Homo sapiens: one gene and its partner. The protein of the gene in region 2 binds, or shares a complex with, the protein of the main gene of each other region. Each region holds a gene or a part of one and is shown on either strand. Other genes may lie near its edges.

What was found.
Region 1: NUP54 (region 2) and NUP93 share a complex: the UniProt entries of both Homo sapiens proteins name them as parts of the p62 complex.

Annotation. Positions count from the first base shown.
Region 1 is NC_000016.10:56,838,129-56,845,128, forward strand, and holds part of NUP93 (nuclear pore complex protein Nup93), read left to right. Parts: intron 1-823; coding exon 824-941; intron 942-1,392; coding exon 1,393-1,476; intron 1,477-3,576; coding exon 3,577-3,705; intron 3,706-6,370; coding exon 6,371-6,481; 3' UTR 6,482-7,000. UniProt on the Homo sapiens protein: Plays a role in the nuclear pore complex (NPC) assembly and/or maintenance. May anchor nucleoporins, but not NUP153 and TPR, to the NPC. During renal development, regulates podocyte migration and proliferation through SMAD4 signaling.
Region 2 is NC_000004.12:76,145,350-76,152,682, reverse strand, and holds the start of NUP54 (nucleoporin p54), read left to right. Parts: upstream 1-4,285; 5' UTR 4,286-4,308; coding exon 4,309-4,375; exon of another isoform or gene 4,376-7,128; intron 7,129-7,333. UniProt on the Homo sapiens protein: Component of the nuclear pore complex, a complex required for the trafficking across the nuclear membrane.

The DNA of each region.
Region 1 (7,000 bases), on a different chromosome or scaffold from region 2:
CTGGATCCCCAGTGAGTTAACTGAATTATCAGACTTCTAACTAGTTTAAGTCCCAGGCTGAAGCTAACAACATTACTTTTTGCGCTCTCTGTAGATATTCCTAGTAAAATGACCCAGAGAAAACTGGGTTTGGGGTGCCTTCCCGGGGTAACAAAAAAGAACATTCTTTGGTAAATGAGATATCTCCACCTAGCAAACAATCCCCAGTGAGGGCTGCTCGGCTTTTTGCCCATCACGACCTCCCACCTTTCATGAAGATTGGATGCTGAGATGATGATCAAGGCTGGAGAACCATGCTTCATGTGGTGGAGTACCTGTAGGTGGATTCATACCAAATCCACTATCAGTGCTTGGCTGTTTCAAAATAAACACCATTTTACACTCTTTAATTAACTTCACCCAGAGAGCTCAGAAGGTTTTGATGCTTTTTATACATTTTTTTTGTATGTTAAGACAGGGTCTCCCTGTATCACCCAGGCTGGAGTGGAGTGCAGTAGTGCAGTCATAGCTCACTGTAACCTTGAACTCCTGGGCTCAAGCAATCCTCCCACCTCAGCCTCCTGAGTAACTAGGACTACAGGCATGTACCACCACACTCAGTTAATATTTTAATATTTTGTGGAGATGGGGTCTCGCTGTGTGTCCAGGCTGGTCACTGACTCCTGGCCTCAAGCAATCCTTCCGCCCCAGCCTCCCATGTAGCTGAGATTACAGGCATGAGCGACCACACCCCACTGTTTTTTTAAATGCTATTCCACTGTTACGGATTACACAGAAATTCCTGATACACTCTTACTACCCCCACCCCGTTTTTGTCTTTCAGGTATAGGGCTCAAGGAATAAGCGCAAATAAATTTGTGGACTCCACGTTCTATCTTCTTTTGGACTTGATCACCTTTTTTGACGAGTATCATAGTGGTCATATTGATAGAGCTTTTGATGTAAGTTTCAGGAAAGGTGTTTGAAGTGCAGGTTAATGTACACCCTCGAAAATTCAAAACACTTCATGGAATTTACTTAAAACAAAGGAGCTGTTGCCAGTATGTTTGTTGTATAAAGAAAGACAAGTACAATCCTGGGACTTAAAAGGAGTTTCCTGTGTGGCTTTTTTTTTTTTTTTTTTTTTTTTTTTGCCTATTCCTTTCCCCTTTAATCTGAAAACAGAGAAGTTTCTCAAAGTAATTTGCAATCTCAGAATTTTAAAAATTGTGTCAGGAAATGATGATAAGAATTAAGTTAGCTAGTTAGAATCAAAGCCTTTGTGTGTACAAGGAGGAATGGCGTTTTCTATGAAGAAGCCCTTTGGAGTATGTGAGGTGCTGACTTTACATGTAGAGAGATGAAATGACTGTGATGGTTGTGTTACATGGGGCCGGTGGTTGTTTTAAACAGATCATTGAGCGCTTGAAGCTGGTGCCCCTGAATCAGGAAAGTGTGGAAGAGAGAGTGGCTGCCTTCAGAAATTTCAGTGATGAAGTAAGTTCCTTCTTCCTGAGTTGTGGAATTCCTTTTTCCCCACTTCCACCAAAAGCTTTTTCTTTTCCTGTACCTAACAGCTTTAAGAATTCTAGTTACAGTAACTATCCAGACTGAGTTTTCCAGAGTGGTTCCCTTTCAGATACCTTGGCCTGGCTTTTCTGTGAGTGCATACATCCCCATCAGATTATTGTCTGAATTCCTAATTGAGAAAATACAGTCACTTCAGTGATTGACATGTTCTTGGGAGAAACAGGTTTCTGGTTGATCTGTGAAGTCTGGTTTAATTCTTCTATTATCCGCTTGTGCTAGAGGGTATTTTAGTGCTTAACTCTGATCATCTTTAAGTAGTTCCATTGGGTACGTGAAACACATCATGATTCACTGCCACCTTTGCCCTCCCTTATCTGTTTTGGGATTTTTTTGTTTTTGAAACGGAGGAGTCTCACTCTGTCACCCAGGCTGGAGTGCAGTGGTGTGATCTTGGCTCACTGCAAGCTCTACCTCCCGGGTTCACACCATTCTCCTGCCTCAGCCTCACGAGTAGCTGGGACTACAGGTGCCCGCCAACACGCCCAGCTAATTTTTTGTATATTTAGTAGAGATGGGGTTTCACCGTGTTAGCCAGGATGGTCTCGATCTTCTGACCTCGTGATCTGCCCGCCTCGGCCTCCCAAAATGCTGGGATTACAGGCGTGAGCCACCGTGCCCAGCCAATCCATTTTGTCTAAAGACGCAAGTGCAGTGACCGCGGAGTAAGCTATCACCCCATAAGCCCCAGAGCCACTGTCTGTTGGGTTTCTAGCATATTGCCAGCATCTAGCCTAGGGTGCTCAGCTGGGCTGCATACTGGCATCTCTAGAAAAGTTTCTAAAAACCCTCATGCCTACACCCCAGAGATTCTGTTTTCCCTGATTGCTGCAGCCCAGACCTCCCCCAGTCATTCCAGTGTGTGGCCCAGGTAAATTCTTCTCTAGAACTATAAACACTCAACTCAGCTGTCGACACTATAGACTCTAGAACCAGCTGCCTGGCTCTGGGATGTCACTAGTGGTCTTTCAGTTTACAATTCTTCCTCATTGAGCAGATGCCTTTTATAAAATGTCTCCAGCCAGGTGCGGTGGCTCACACCTATAATCCCAACATTTTGGGAGGCTGAGGCGGACTGATCACCTGAGGTCAGGAGTTCGAGACCAGCCTGGCCAACATGGTAAAATCCCATCTCTACTAAAAAATACAAAAATTAGCCGGGCGTGGTGACGCATACCTGTAGTCCCAGCTATTCCAGAGGCTGAGGCACGAGAATCGCTTGAACCCGGGAAGCAAAGGTTGCAGTGAGCCGAGATTGCGCCACTTCACTCCAGCCTGGGCGATAGAGGGAGACTTTGTCTCAAAAAAAAAAAAAAAAAGTTTCTATTTTAGAGAAAGAAGTAAGGCCAGTTCTGCACATGAAGAGGGATGTTGACTGCTGTGGTACACACAGTTCAGAAGGTCTTGCCCCTTGCTGACCTTCCCTTTATACCTGCTGTGGCTTCTACCCTTAGCCACTTGCTCCTTTGTTATTTCTGGCCTTTCCTTGAATGCATCCTTCATTGCATCAGGGATTAAAGTGGTACACGAGGGCCTGGCCTTATAGACACTCCCAAGGACTCTGGTAGGGTCATGCAGATCTAGTGGAAACAGCCCGGTGAGTTTGAGAGAGTGAGGAGTGGTAGGGACTGTGGAGAAGTAGCGTGTGCACCTGTACCTCCTGACATTCAAGTTCAAATTATTTAATGGCAGCCACTCTGCTGGCCAGTCTAAGCCTAATGCTAACCAGATGTCAGCATGCTTTTGGCTCACTGCCCCTGACTAAGGGAAAAACAGCATAAAGGAGCAGGAACAGTAACCACCTGACCTGAGCAGCATTGCTTGGGTTTTTTTCTCACACTTGATGTTTCAGTGCCATCAGCTCCTTTTGGGTGACTGTGTGGCTCTCCACCTGGCAATGGTGAGGAGTGGTGCAACCAGGCCTGCCTGGAGCAGCCCACCCTCCCTCCATCTGTGGTTGGCCCCAAAGGCTTGGTTCTTTTTCTTTACTCTGTTTTTCTCTCTATGTAGATCAGGCACAACCTCTCAGAAGTGCTTCTTGCCACCATGAACATCTTGTTCACACAGTTTAAGAGGCTCAAGGGGACAAGTCCATCCTCGTCATCCAGGCCCCAGCGAGTCATCGAGGACCGCGACTCTGTAAGATCCCAGCATTCGCGAGAAACATTGCTAAGCACCACCTTTCTGGTTTGGAATCCGTTGCGCTCTTATGAGACCACATGACCCAAAACTGCTCTTTCTCCTCAGTACCTGGCAGCTGGATAAATCTCGTGTTAGGAGGCTCCCAGAGGAAATCAAATATTAAAGGGATTGCTGCTCTTCTCAAGCTTAAAAAAATAAAAAGATGTACTAGGTCTGCAAATCTTACCTTTTAACAAATCAAACAGAATGCTAATTTCTAGTTGACTCCATAAGAACTTCCTGCACATTTTAAAAGATAAGTTTATTTTGTTAGTCCTAGCTCATTAGTGAACACTTTTATTAAAACCATACTTTATTTTTGATCAACACATTAATGTGAACCCTTGTTTCTCCTGTCACCTGTGTTCACAGTGACCCTAGAGAGGTAACTAGGACAGCATCTTATCCCCTCTCACAGCTGAGGAAACTGAGCTGTGGAGTTGGGAAGCAACTGCCCTCAGGTGGCAGGTAGGTGAAGGGGCCATGTCTGGAGGCTGGGTCTCTCTGACACCTGTGCCCTTTCTGCTGCCTGTGGGACCTCCAGCAGTGCATGGGTCAAGTGGAGTCCAGGTAGCTAGAACCCTGGGGCTCACAGCATATGTTGTCTGATTACAAAAAAAAAGAGCAAAGGTATTTTTTGACCCAGTTAAACCATAAGGGGACAGTCCAATGGTGTTTGCTTTTTTTTTTTTTTTGAGGCAGGGCCTGGCTCTGTTGCCCAGGCTGGAATGCAATGACACGATCTCAGCTCACTGCAACCTCTACCTCTTGGGCTCAAGCCACCCTCCCACCTCACCCTCCCAAGTAGCTGGGACTACAGGTACGCACCACCACACCCAGCGGAGTTTTGTACTTTATATAGAGATGGAATTTTACCATGTTGCCCAGACTGGTCTCGAACTCCTGAGCTCAAGAGATCCCCCAACCTCGGCCTCCCAAAGTGCTAGGATTACAGATGTGAGCCACCGTTCCCGGCCCCACAATAGTGTTTTTTAAAATTACCTTTCCTTTAACCTTTCCACTTAATTTTTGATGAGACTCTCAGCATCTCAGTGTCTAACATCAGACCTGGTTTTGGCAGCCAAGAAGCCTTGATCTGTCTTCTGCCTCCAAGATGTCTGTGAGCTCTTTCCACTGTGACCCCACAGGCATGGTTGTTGACAAAACTTGTGCTTAGTGAAAGATGGCGGAAATTTCCACCTTTAGGAATGTGGGTAACAGTGCTCAAGAGTGGTCCACTGAAGCGGTCAGCCCATCCAGGTGTGCACCAGAGCATTTGCTGGTCTTCTGCCTACCCCGGACAGATAGGAGTCTAAATGTCAGATGTGCCAGCGGTGGGTTCATGGTGCCCACCATTTGGCAGGAATCTTTTTTGATGATAGAAACCCAGGGCAGTGATGTTTGTGAATGTGAGTATTGAGATGGTGGATACTTCTTGGTGCTCTGTGTGCTGCTTACAGTTCAGTGGGGCTTGCCCACTGAGAAGAGCTGGTCCCCTGGCAGGCCATGTCTCATGTCTGAAGATCATTCTCCTGCCTTCCTTTTGCCCACCACTCTCCTTTTTCTTTCTTTTTCTGAAAGGTAGGGAGGGATAGGATTAAGTAAAAGGTTATCTATAAAAGCTGCGTGCCCAAGAAGTCTGCAAGCCCACTGACGTCCTTGGTTTCATGGTTTAAAGTGAGATGCTGCCTAGTAAAGGGGTGAATCCTTTTACTTGAACATCCCTAGAGCTCATTTAACGAGAGCCCTTTTATTCACTTCTAAAGAAAATACAGTGGATATTCACATCACAAAGTCAGATTTCTTTTTGTTTGGACATCAATAAGGACATACACTCGCTAGTTTGTTTTACACATCAGGTAAAAAGCATTTGCTTTTCCGTTTTCTTCTGGAATGGTCCTTAAGTAAGCCTAGTAGATGACTCCTCAGTGTTTCTTTAAATTCTTGTTACTAGTCCAGAAAGGTGTTGGTGGTAGATTTCTCCCTTTCTAGTCCAGATTTGGTTTAAATTTGTAGGGCCACCTTTTTCCATCCTGAACAATCCAGGAATTCCATAAATACTGTTGCCTGGGGAAAGAAGGGCTAAGCATGTATGTCGGGAAGGGAGAAACAGGAGGAATGAAAGGAAGGAAGAGGAAAGATGCATGGGAGGAAGAGAGCTGGATTGGGACTGCACAGTCACAGCCCTTGCCTCCGGTGTCACAAGGGCTTCATGGGGCTCTGGAGAGTCAGATCCCTGTGAAAGCAGATGGACAGAAACCAGCCAGAGAGAGAGGCTCAGAAGATTGGAGCAGGCAGTTCTGAAGCTCAGGGCTGTGTCAAAAGCTAGCCAAATGTGTTGGGGCGAGGCGGCTTGCCTGGCAAACCCATCTGCTTTTTGCTTAATAGATGGGTTTGGATGCCTGTGGAACAGAGGCCTCGGGGGACGAGCTTTGTTAACTTTGTGTTATGTTGAAGGAATGTGACAGAGGAGGGTATGACTGTCATCCACCCATCAGGGATCTGTCCCTGACACGCTGGGGTAGAGGATGGAAGAACATGGAATAGAGGATGGAAGAATATGGAATAGTGCCCTGACTCGAAAGTTAACCGATTTCCTTCCCTTCCTTCCCTTCTCTCTCAGCAACTCCGAAGTCAAGCCCGCACTCTGATTACCTTTGCTGGAATGATACCATACCGAACGTCTGGGGACACCAATGCGAGGCTGGTGCAGATGGAGGTCCTCATGAATTAAGTGCCATGCTTTGTGGGAGTCTGGGTCGGCACACTGTCAGTACATCAGGCACATGGGCCCACTAGGCTGGGGTTTCTGGTTTTGTTTCTGTTGTGTTTTGTTTTGGTTTCTGTATTATGTATTTTTGTCAACGCCAATAAATTTCTTTGATTTGTATTTCTTTTCAACATTCTTTTATTTTCTTTTTTTTTTTCTTTGAAATTTTGTTTACATTTTTATTTGTGTAATGGGAAATACCGTCACTAGCTCTTGGGCCAGGGAATGAGAGGCTATGTAGATATTCATTATTTGGTTAAATTGACCTTAATTAATTAAAAATCTACCCAAAATGAGCCAGGAAACAAAGCCTTTGGGAGTTACTTTTATTTAGATATAATATTCCATATAGCAGAGTCACGATTCATTTTCACATTTTTATTTGAATGTGAAAGTCAACCTCAGCCTTAGAAGATGTAAGATTTGTGTGTGAAATATCAAGCACTCCATGTCCTCCTCTAGAGAGTGTGACTTAAGTCCAGA
Region 2 (7,333 bases):
GGCAAACATCCTCTAGTAACTAACTGCCTAAGAAATAGGAGGTATTTTGTTTTTTAATAGTTTTTTTTTTGTCTAAAAATGCTATTATTCTCCCTTCATAGTTGATCTATAAGTTGGCTGGGAATAGAATTGTAGCTGGAAATAATTTGTATTCAGAAATTCAAAGGCATTTCTCAACTGCCTTCTAGCTAGTGTTACCATTGAGAAGTCTGATGCCATTTTGATTCTTGTTTTTGTGTGTGTGACCTCTTTTACTCTCTGGAAACTTCTTTGCCATCATGGTTCTGTTATTTTGGAATGTGCCTTAGTGTGAGTCTATTTTGATTAATTGTAATGAGCATTTGGTGAACCATTTTCAACCCAGCAGTGTCTTTCAATTATGATAAATTTTCTTGAATTATTTAATAATTTCCTCAGCTGTGCTGCCTTCTTGAACAGTCACAAGTATACTATTTTTTTTTTCTTTATTTTTGAGACAATGTTTCACTCCGTCACCCAGGCTGGAGTGCAGTGGCATGATGGCTGCTCACTGCAGCGTCAACCTCTGGGGCTATTGGCGTGTGCCACACCTGGCTAATTTGGTCTATTTTTTTTTTTTTTTGTAGAGATGGGGTCTCCCTATATTACCCAGGCTGGTCTCAATCTCCCCAGCTCAGTGACTCTGCCGCCTTGGTCCCCCAAAGTGCTGGGATTACAAGTATGAGCCACTGCACTTGGCCCACAAGTGTACTATTAACTCAATATCTGGTTTTCCCTCACTCAACTGTAAGTTCTCAAAGGCACAAACCATACCTTTTTTGTTTAGCACTCAGAATAGTACCAAGTACATAGTAGGACTCAATAAACTCTGAATGAACGAATAATAGGAAGAGACCAAATCTTGAAGGACTTTAAAGGACAGATTTTTCTCTATACTCTTTCTGAAATTATTGTATTAGTGTGCATGATATAACAGTGTGTGTGATAGAGGGCTTTTTGAACTAGTCCTCTAGTTTTAGTTTCTCCTCAATTTTCCATCCTTGGTCTTTTTGTTTTTCTTTCTGAGAGATTTCTTCACCTTTATCTTCCGACACTTCTACTGGGTTTTTCATTTCTGGTAATAGCTTTAAAATTCCAATAGCTCTCTTTTGTTCTGCTAAGAATACCTTTCTTTGAAAATAATAACATCCTGATATTATTTCATGGTTACAATATCTCTTCCTATCTCTCTGCGGATATGTTCACTTTTTAAAAGTTTTATTCTCCTTGCAGTTAGTTTCCTCCAAGCTGCTTTTGCTGCTCTATTTGTTTTGACCTCTATACATTGTGTTAAAGGCTCTCCTCAGCTTGGTAATCCTTGCTGGTCTACTCATATATAAGAGTGGGACTTAAAAGCTGAATGGAAGTTCTGAGTGCCTTAGTGAGGCTTGCAAAGTGTGAGCTTTATTATAAAGCAGGATTTCTCAAACTCTGTAATAGTGGTATTTGGGGCCAGGTAATTTTTTGTTTGGGTAGGAAGGGAGTCTGTCCTAGAGTATTTTGCAGCATCTTCAACTTCTACTCAATAGATGCCTGTAAGATCTTCCCAATTGCAACCACCAAAACTGTCTGTAGACACTGCCAGATGTGCCAGGGGATGGGAGAAGTAGAAAATTGGCACCAGTTGAGAACCACTGCTATAATGTCATGTGGCTAAATCATTTATTTAGAGATTTCTGATGTCAGATGATTGTCTTTTCTTTGATACTGGTCATTTCACCCATAAAAAATTCTCCTATATCTTCCTGGAGGGCGAAGGCCTGGCTGCCAATGTTCTGGGAGCAGTAGGGGAAGGTGTGTATAGGCATGCATTTCCACTCAGTCTTCCACCATTCAGTAGGGCACTACCCACTCTCAATAATGTCTGGTGCCCCCAAGTCCAGAGACACTACTATTTTTTTTTTTTTTACACTGACGGGGGGTGGGGGGGAGTCCCCACTGTGTTGCCCAGGCTGGCTGAACTCCTAGGCTCAAGCAATCCTCCCACATCAGCTTTCCGAGTAGATGGGACTATAGGCTGGTGCCACTGTGCCTGGCAAATACTATTTTAATCACTGTAGAGAAGAATCCTCCATTATTTTTCTAGAGTGGGGAAGAAGCATTCACTTGGCTGCACGAGGTCAGAAGAGGATTTGGGGAGCTCTAACTGCTTCTTAAATAGACTTTCAACCAGTTCCTCTCATTTTAACTTCCCTTTACCCCAACTTATGAAGATACGTGATATCTCCAATTCCTGAGCTTCTGGCAGATTCCATAAATTAATCATTGGTTTTCCTTTCTGCTAGACTGGGAGGGCTGTTTGTTTTTTTAAGGTAAGCTGAGTACTTAGCCATTAGACAATGTGCTAAATCAGGGGTGTCCAATCTTTTGGCTTCCCTGGGCCACGCTGGAAGAAGAAGAATGGTTGTTTGTTTTTTTAAGGTAAGCTAAGTACTTAAGCGTTAGGCTATGTGCTAAATCAGGGGTGTCCAATCTTTTGGCTTCCTTGGGCCACACTGGAAGAAGAAGAATTGTCTTGGGCCACACATAAAATACACTAACAATAGCTGATGAGCTTTAAAAAAAATCGCAAAAAACCTCACAATGTTTCAATAAAGTTTACGAATTTGTGTTGGGCTGCATTCAAAGCCATCCTAAGCCATGAGCCACATGTGGCCTGTGGGCCGCAGCTGGACAAACTGCTGGTAAATCAAAGCTCCTTAACATGCTAAGGAAGGTCTTTCAAGATCTGGTTTCCACCTATCTGTCATTCATTCATTATTTATTTCCCCCTGTTATATGCCAGGCACTTGTGATGGGCATGGAACAAGAGGGACATGGTTCTTGCACTTATGGAATATATACTATTGTAAGGAAAAATTAGATTGATAAATTATCTGTGACAAACAGTGAAAGAAGGCAGGGCAGTGGGTATGAGAGCATACTCAGTTTGTAGGAGTCAGACACGGGTCCACCATTCACCAACTTGCCCAAGCCAGAAAGCAGGAGGTTGTCCTTGAATCCTTACTTCCCACGTCCAAATACTACGAGTCTCATATATGCTATTTCTTAAGTATCTCTCAAATTTATTCTCCTAATTCCACTGCCAGATGTAATCCAAGTCATTATCATCTCCTACCTGTGCAACTACAACAGACTCCTAAAAGCTCTATCTTCCTCAGGCATTCTGGCTCCTTCCAATCCATTCTCCTTATGGCAGCCAGAGGGATCTTCTAAAAACAAAATTCTAGTCATACTAGTCCTCTGCCTAAAACCCCTTAAAGGTTTCCCATTACCCTCAAGAAATAGTCTGAAATCCTTACCATAATTTACAAGGCAATATAATATAATGGTAATTTTTACAAATTGGGACTCTGGAGTGGAGAAACATGAGTCCAAAACCAGACTCCAGAACCTACCTGCAAGGTGACTTTGGGCAAGCTGCTTAACAACTCCAAACCTCAATTCTCTCATCTCACCTGCAAAATACAGTTACAGAATCTTCTCTATTTATTTATTCTGAGGATTAAATTATATTACAAGTACAACAGAGGGGGCCCACTCTTCCCCTCTTTTTCAGTGCTCCCCTTAGAGCTGTGGTTAGGAGTATTTACTCTGTAAACAGCCTGACCCTTTGGTACCTGTTTCCTCTTTTATAAATTGGAGATAGCAGCAACCCACCTCATAAGATAGCTGATTAAATTATGTAAAATGTCTAGAAGAGTGCCTGGCACATAGTAAACGCAACGTGTTTGCTACAATTCCATTCGCTTTCATTTCTTCCAACGTGCATCCTCTTTACTGCTTCTGCTCCGTCTACTCATCCTTCAGCACTGGGTTCAAATACCACCTCCTCGTGGGTGTTGGGGGGGTTCTCAACCCCAGCCCTGCTGCCCGACCTCCCAGGCCCGCTAGTTGATGAGGCAGCAACTTCAACCCTACCACATACAAATTCTAGCTGTCTACCGCGTATCCCTACAGTAACAACTTCAGCCTCTGCACACCTTTCCCAAAGAACCTCCCTACGGCAGTTTTTAAAGGACTCTCAGGCGGCACACCCTCGCGAGCGTCCCAGCATTTTACCTTAACAGTGACACCCCACAGCATGTGAAGCCCACCGGAAGTGAGCTGGCTGGGGGCGTTCCCTCACAACCACCCACCTCCTACGCCCTTGGCGCCTTCCGGCCTCTTAGGCTAGGTCAGAAAGGAGGCGGAACTCGGTGATCTGACTGGCGGTTTCCCGGCCGGACTGAGAAGGGGAGCGCGCTGCGCGTCGCAGGAGTAACCTACTTGGTCTCCTGCTTTCGCGACATGGCCTTCAATTTTGGGGCTCCCTCGGGCACCTCCGGTACCGCTGCAGCCACCGCGGCCCCCGCGGGTGAGTGATCCCCCTAGACCTTCACCCGGGAAGAAGGGGAAGGGTCTGGTCCGCCCCCTCTGTCCGAGACTCTCCGACCTGGGGATCCTGGAATCTCCCGCCGACGCGGAGACTTTAGAGGCATTGGAAAAGGGCGGGCGGCGGCAGAGTGGGCCGAGGCGGCACCCGAGGAGGCCACGGGGGTACTCGGGGTCCCACTAGAAGCTCGCTTGCCGCGCGTGAGTTTCCACAGGGCCCTGGCTTGAGCGGTTCGCTTCCCGCTGCCGGGGAGTCCTACTCAGAGAAATTGGAGGTTGCTTCCCTCTCCCCTTGCCCGAGAACCTCCCTCCCCTCTGCACCTCAGCCTCCTGGATGGGCGGGAACGCTTGCGTGGTTCCCGCTGCCGGACTCGGCGAGGATAGGGCTGGGGATCCACCGGCACTGCCCATTGACTCCCTTAGTTCCACCCCCGGCCCCCTGTGGTCCTCGCTGTGGGGTTTATCCGTCATGCTTCTTCCATCTGCCCCACCCCACCCCCACTCTGCTTTCTTAAACTGTTTGGAGCAAAACCAGGTTTGTTCACTTCTGTGAAACCTCCTGCTGATTCTTCTAATCCTTATCTTGCTTTCTTTTCTTTTTCCCTCTCCCCCTTTTTAAAATTTTGTTTCTTTGCCTACACGCCTATCAGGATTTGGTGGGCTTGAGACTGCCAACTCCACCGCCAGTGGGTTTAATTTTGGGGGTTTCGGATTAACTGCTAATCCTGCAGTGAACTTTAATATTGGGAATTTCGGTGTTTCTACTACCTCGGCGACTCCGTTCAATTTTGGTAACAGTCTGGCAAGTGCAGGTAGATACTGCGGGTTGTATGTGTAACCAGTGTTGGGAGCTGGAGTCCAAGAATATTGTGGTTCCTGGAGTTTGGGAAAGAACAGTTACTTGTCTAATAGGGAAAGGAAATTTATTTCCTTATCTCGAATCAAAAACATCTGTATCAAGTTTTTACTGCCTTAAAAGATGTGGTTTAGGAAAGTTTTGCAAGTTACAGTGTTCCTTTATTAAATGTGCACTTATCTTCCAAATGATAAGCATTTGGATTATAATTTTGAATAGATCTTTAAAATTATTAGGTAGGACTTCCAAAGTATAAACTCACCACCAGTCAAGCCCATCCTGGGATTCTTGGACTCCTGCAGTCATTTTTCATTTTTTCTGCATCTTTCATTGAGATTTCATTTTATTGTCCTTGTGTTTCCAAAGAGAAACAAGTCTTATACGAACAGCAGTAACCTGTTTTGTTTTTTAACTTGTGTTATAATGATAATAATGTATTTCTTTGGTCAACTCAGCAGATTAGGATACTATAAGATGTGTAATTTCTATAAGATTTGTAATTATAGAAAGAATCCCCAGTTCTTTGCTGGAATTTTGGGAAATGCTCAAAGAGAGCAGTTTAGTTTTATGTGATATAGCATCGAATTCTAAAAGGTAAGCTAGACGTCTTTGCATTCAAAAAGATAATTATGAAGATTTTCATATGCACGTGGGTTGTTTGCAGCTCATTAGAAATTTTGCAAAACAATAATGATATATACATTTAAAATAGGTTTATGGGTACTTTACATAGTGACACTGTAGAAAAAAACTTGTTCTTCAGCTGCTCGTATATGAATTTATCGTCCATAGTCTCTTACGTTATGCCTCTTGTGCCCATGCCAATTATATGCATTTGATAAACATTATTTACTCCCTAAAAGTTAATTGGGAAGTTTGTTATTTTGTTCATTCACTGGTTACTGCAATGTGATTATCACCCTAGCATCTGAGTTGAAAACAGTTCGAAGAATATTTGAAAACTTCAAAGACAAGATGATGCATTTTAATTAAGATGTATTCGAAGTAATCACATATCACTGTCCTTTGATGTGTTTACTTTTCCTTGTTTGCTTAAAATTGGCACTGGGTAAAACAGAAATCTTACTTTGAAATTTGTGTTTCTGAATAAAGCCACCCAGCTCATAATTCAACAACAATAAATAAACTTGTTGGTATTTGCTTGATTTCATGTTCATTTGGAGTTATCACTGTTAAGTTTTGAGTTATGATAATGTAATATGTTTTAACTACTTTTATATGTGTTAACCTTCAGCAAAGGGCTGATAGACTTTCTTGTTTACTTTTTATTTTGTATACTTGCAGATCTGCTATTACTAAAACATTTTTGATGTTGTGGAGCATGATGAGAAACTGACTAGTGTTTCTATTGCGTAGCCAATTCAGATTATATCATAGTTATTCTATGGAAGTGAAGAATAATGAAAAGAAATTACAACAGTGCTTAGTACTGTGGGTGACTTTTATGAAAATGTTTATAGTTTGCAGTACTGCAGTAGAACCTACAAGTAAATAGAATATTTAGTTGTGCCTGCATGCAACATGCAGCTTACTCTTGAGTAGTTTTCCAAATCAGAATGAGGTGATTAATATAAAATGGTTGCATGTTTTTCTTCTTGTATTTTCTATATTGCAATATTGATGAATCTGTGTTGTATACCAGAAATAAATGAGATTAAAGGAAGATTCCAAAAAATCTGCAATATAATTCGACACTAATGGTTCAAACATTTGTCTTGAAAGGCTTTTTGATACCACATTGGTAATCAGCTGAAGACTGACAATAAGTTACAAAAATAACAAAACAATTTTAGATTGGCTAGCATTCCATTTATCTGTCAAATCTCTTCCTTCAAGAAACACATTCTTGTTGTTTGGAGGTAAGTATATTGGTATGCTTCCTTTGAAAAGTTACTTAGTCTTGACAGAGACTAAGTAGAAATATAAGTTAATTTAGACATAAATTAATTCACCAAAACCAAGGTTGCTAACTGGCAACAAGTCTGCCAATGTGATATGTTTGGCATGCTGTTTTCAAAACATTTGAATTCCTTGCAAAAAAAAGTAGTTGAATTAGGGTTTAAA